Regions from separate parts of the Homo sapiens genome. Here region 2 is linked to region 1. Evidence: fine-mapped expression QTL. Tissue or cell type: whole blood. Region 1 holds a variant in brackets; the other region holds the start of a gene. All regions are shown on one strand. Distances are from middle to middle.

Region 1 (2,687 bases):
TCCCAAAGTGCTGGGATTACAGACGTGAGCCACCGCGCCCAGCCCAGTGTTACAGAATATAAAATAAATGACAATGTGTGTCAAGTGTTTAACACGAAACACAGTTAAGACTAAAGAAGTAGAAGACTATTTTATTTTTCTAAGCTGGGGCTCACTGCAACTTCCAACTTCTGGGCTCAAGCAATCGTCTCGCCTCACTTCCAGCATAGCTGTGACTACAGAGGTATCAATGCGCCTGGCTGATTTTTAAATTTCTTTTTGTAGAACGGGGTCTTGCTATGTTGCCCAGGCTGATCTTGAACTCCCGGCCTCAAGTGATCCTTCCATCTCGGCCTCCCAAAGTGCTGAGATTACAGACTAAGCAACCGCATTGGCCAGAAGACTATCTTATTTTGTCTCATTACACTCTCTTATCCCAGGAATTTCACTGACAATTTAGGTATCAATTTTGACCTCACATGGATTAATCAGGTATCTCTTGTTTTGAGCATCCAGCACTTACTATTCTCCAAACCCGACTGATCATTTTATCCTCCTACACACACACACACACACGTTACCATGTTTCTAAAGAGGCATGGGTTAGAAATCATCGTAAATTGCTACAATAAACCAAATGAGATATTGTTATCACTTACTGGAAAAAAGTATTGTGGGTACATGTCCTACTGACCAAATTCTGACAGGAAAAGCAGCAAACCATCATTCAGAATTTCAAATGGTAAATATACAGAGCCTCTCTTATGCCCCAGCTGGACTGGGGAGTAGGGAGAACCTAATTTTCTCAGTCTCAAGCACCTTAGTGTCCTACACCCCCATTCGAGGCAGAAACTCAGGATCCTGCAAATTCATTCATATTAGTCTCCCACTTCAGATATCAGAGAAAATAATTAACTGGGATGGGTGGGGCTGGGAGGATCAAAACAAATTTCTGTTTGGGAAGTTCTACCTCTCCCCGCTCAGTATGCCCCTCAAAATTCCCCACTCTCCCCTTCCTCTTATGTAGGGGTGTCACTCACATCCGCCATGATGAACCCCCTTCTCTCGCAGGATCAATCTCCACGCCTGGAAGAGAAACTCCCGGTGACTCTTCCCTCTTTGGCTTCCTCGTCCTCCCCACCCACAACTTAATACGCGAGATCAGCCCTGGTCAGAACCAGGTAAAACCCCCGCGGTTCTAGGGCTTGGCCCAGCGAGCCCAGTGGGAGTCGGAGTGCCCCAGCACCCCCACAGGTACTCAGCTGGCACACCTTACCTCAGCCCACCCCATCCCTGCCCCTCCACCCCAAAGAGCTAGGCCCAAAGAAAAGAAGAGAGGGTCCTCTCCTTCTGTTTAATCTCACCACCCGCGCCACCTGCGGGACTAGGCCTCAAAACCAGGCAAAGTAGCGCCAGTTACCTGGGGTTTCTGGGCTGCCTGGTTCTCTCCGCTGTCACTTCAGGGACAGCTTTAAAGACAGGTTCCTCCTCAAGCCACCGTCACATGATTCATGACCTCGTCTGCGCTCCAGGAAGCACTTTCTAAGCCGCCGTCGCCCTACGATACGGGATTTCCGGAGGGGCCCGGCGGAAGCTGCGAGGGCGCGTCCGGCGGCCGCGCCCCTCCCCTCCCCCCCGCCCCGCACGCGCCCCGCCCCTCCCCCGCCCACCGCGGGCCGCGTCTTGCGCCTGCGCCTT[G/C]TGTCACGGGCCGAAGGAAGTCAGCTGTGGGGTAGATTTGTACGAGATCGCTGGACCCTAAGGAACCCAGAAAATGCAAGCAAGGTTATGTGTTACAAGACATTCTTGTGCAGAGAGGGTGTATAAATGTCATTAGTTTTGCAGGGTCTGTTATCTTAAAACCTTTTCTTGTAGATGAAGAAATTTGAGGGGATGGTGTGATGAGCTGAAGAGCAAGCACCAGATTGCCTGTGATTGGAAGTACCAGGTCCACAGGTTTCTGACCTGTTTCCTAGGCTCTTGTGACTTCCCCATGGGTGCTCTTTACTGAAGGCCTTACCTAGATTGAATGGGGAGGAGCCATGGGTTTTCTGGAGCACTTCAAGCGTCTACTTTTAACATGCAGACACTGATTACGGGCACCTTCTATGTTCCCTTTTACATCAGAATTTTTAAAAATTAGTAAGGTCTCATGTAATAAATAATAATTGAAAAAAATAAAAGGCTTTCCGGGTGCGGTGGCTGACGCCTGTAGTCGCAGCACTTTGGGAGTCCGAGGCGGGACGATCCTTTGAGCCCAGGAGTTCCACAGCAGCCTGGCAAGATAGGACCCCATCTCTACAAATAATAATAATAATTAAGAATTATCCGAACGTGGCGTGCACCAGGTACTCGGGAGGCTGAGGCAGGAGGATCCCTTGAGCCCAGGGTTTGAGGCTGCATCGAGTGGTGATCGCCCCACTGAACTCCAGCTTGTGTGACAGAGCGAGACCCTCAAAAGAAAAGCTTCTTTAGAAATCGCATCCTCTTTCAGCTACCACACTGTTTTTCCTCTACTCCCTTTCATAGCCAAATTTTCAGAAAACTTTAGCCTGGTTTTCAATTGCTGCTTCCATATGTCACAAATCTAATCAGAGTTCTGTTGATTCTACCTCCTATCTTTGAAAACTATTCACCTATCTATATTCCTACCCTACTCCAAGCCATGATCATCTCTCTTTTGACAACAACCTCCTATTCTTCTTACATTC
Region 2 (2,687 bases), 78 kb before region 1:
CTGTATGCATATTCAGTATCTCCCTGGCCTGCACTGGCCTCTCTGTTCAAGTGGGCCCTGTCCTTCTCTGTGAGCAAACTGTAGCCAAAAGAATTTAAGTGCTCATTTAGTCAGTTATATATGTATTATCAGAGCTTAGTCTTCAGCAGACTGCCTCCAGACACTCAGGAACTTCCCACTGGCAACCAGTGTTACCCGGGTCTCACCGATCCCGGGTGAACAGTGGTAATAGGGAGGAAGATGAAGGATAGAACCATTGCACAGCAGCCTTTTGCAATCATCTAGTCCTTTAGGAACAGTTCTGCTGTGCTGTTTAGTCCTCAGGCCACACTGTGAGAACAAGTTACAGAGCACTGTGGTGAGTGCTGAATGAGTCAGGGAGTAGAGATAGGAAGAGAGAGAGAGAAAGGGAGAGGGAGAGAGAGACCTGTAGGTACATAGAAAAGGCAGGAAGCAACATATGTCCTTGACTCATTTGATACTGCACTTTGTTCCACTTCCCAAGGATTCAGTCACTGCAATTTACCTTTAGCATTCCAGGCAGATAGAATCCTGCTCTACATATGAATCTGGGCACAAAGCCATGCAGGTGTGAGTAAGCCCATGAAGGAAGTGGCACTCAAAGACTCTAGGAGTTCAGGCCAGGTGCAGTGGCTCATGCCTATAAGCCCAGCACTTTGGGAGGCCGAGGTGAGTGTATCACCTGAGGGTGAAACCCTGTCTCTATAAAAACACAAAAATTAGCAGAGCATGATGACGGGTGCCTGTAATACCAGCTACTTGGGAGGCTGAGGCAGAAGAATCACTTGAACCCTGGGAGGTGGAGGTTGCAGTGATCTCAGGTCATGCCATTACACTCCAGACTGAGTGACAGAGCGAGACTGTCTCAAAAAAAAAAAAAAAAAAAGACTCCAGGAGTTCTAATATGCCCCATTAGGTGGGCACCAGAATGGCCCCTTGTAACTTTTTCCTACCTTCTCCTCTCCTAATTCTTTTTCTGTGGAGGAAACAATAATTGTCTCTGAATCATCCCTATTCGGAGCATTGAGGATATATTAGAAGGTCTGGGTAAACAAGCAGAAATATTGCAAAAGTGCTAAAACATCAAACTTCAGGGTCGAATTTGTGGTTTGCTTCTGCTTTTTCTATCCACTCTAAAGGTGTTCCTGATAGAGAAGCTTCCTCAGTGTTCCCTGTGTTGGTGTGTAAGACAGAAAGAAGATGGGGTAAAAGAGTGCACGCATCCTCCACTACAAACCAGAGGCTGATAGCATTAGGGAGAAGCTAGGGTTTGGCCTCACACAAGCAGTTTGCACTGTTGTCCAATCCCAGGTGGGGTGGTTGCCTCTTCATTTCCTTTGATAGCAACCGCCTGTTGCGTGATGTAGTGTGGGTGTCCTCAGAGGTAGCTACCTAAGTTTGCATACTTCCTGACTGACAGAACACTCCTGCCAGTGCCTCCAGGCCAGGGTGGTGGTGTTGGTGGGAGGAGTAAGTAACCAAGTTTCACTTCCTTGCCTTGGAGACTCAGAGCCATAGCAGGCTGCTGTCTCACAGAGCGAGAAGGTGTCAGGAGCAGCCCAGTTGTGTCTCTCTCTCTACCTCTGTGAAGGGCGCGAATGGGCAGAGCAGAACTTCTAGAAGGGAAGATGAGCACCCAGGATCCCTCAGATCTGTGGAGCAGATCCGATGGAGAGGCTGAGCTGCTCCAGGACTTGGGGTAAGGCAGCAGATCTCCTTTCAAAGTACCTAGTGGGTGGACATTGACTCCGCACTCCCACCTGCATGCTTTGATTAATGACTATCTTCAGTGCCTTGTTGCCCTCTGCCACCTCAACCATTTATTTTTTTCCACTTTATTCATTTGTATCTGTTAAGTATCTTCTTGTCTGGGGCTAATTCCATTGGAAAAGCAGGCATTATTTTTCTAGATGTGAAAACAAGTTGGTTGAGAAAATAGGGAAAAAAATCAAATGTTGGACATTCTTTGAGAAGAGGGACAGAATTGGGATATAGAGGTGATGTTGCCTGGCTTCCTTGATGTTGCTCTGGTTTATGAATAAATGCGCTGTTCAAGAGTTTCTAGCACTGACCCAGGGACAGTAAAAGGACTGTGTTTCTGGTAAGATAAACAGAAAGCTTACCCTACTGTAAGGGAGAGGGACTTTTTCAAAAGACAGAGAATGAGGAAGTTCCTGCAACAGTCTCGCTTGTATATTTCTTTCTCCTGATACTGCATTTGTGAGATTTGATATCGTATGTATGTCCAGAGAGCCAACTTTGAGCCTTTCAGTACCAACAATCCAGGAAGAGGATAAAATTTCTGCTTCAAACAGGTAAGCATAGGTAGGTGGAGTCATTGGAGCTCTGTCTTTAAGAAGGGACCCAGATGACAACTCATCCGGGTATTTAATAAGAAACAAGTATTACACAAGAGAGGAATTGGGGATTTCCCAGAGAAACTGCCTAATGCACTGGGAATATCCCAATGAAGGTGGCTTTGACACCTGTGCATGAGGAGAGGCAAAACCTTTACCTTCTGCCTGGACAAATAGCTCTAACTCTTCATAGCAATCCAATGACATAGGAGCTGTTGTCATCTTCATCTTACAAAGGATGAAAACAAGTACCAAACAGGTTTGAATAACTTGCTTGCTAGTCACACATCAATTACATAGCAAAGCTGG

Evidence for each region. PIP is the estimated chance that this variant, and not a neighbour inherited with it, causes the effect.
Region 2: it holds the start of DAPP1, and the variant in region 1 is fine-mapped to the expression of DAPP1 in whole blood (TOPMed, PIP 0.91).

What each region holds. Positions count from the first base shown.
Region 1 is chr4:99,892,936-99,895,622 of GRCh38, forward strand. LAMTOR3 (late endosomal/lysosomal adaptor, MAPK and MTOR activator 3) reads right to left here and starts at 1,492. Exons shown (of 7, transcript NM_021970.4): 1 at 1,400-1,492; 2 at 1,020-1,065. The coding sequence starts at 1,028. RefSeq lists a silencer at 1,591-1,680. The variant G/C (reference allele first, on the strand shown) is at 1,678.
Region 2 is chr4:99,815,295-99,817,981 of GRCh38, forward strand. It overlaps DAPP1 (dual adaptor of phosphotyrosine and 3-phosphoinositides 1), which reads left to right and starts at 1,533. Exons shown (of 9, transcript NM_014395.3): 1 at 1,533-1,720. The coding sequence starts at 1,620.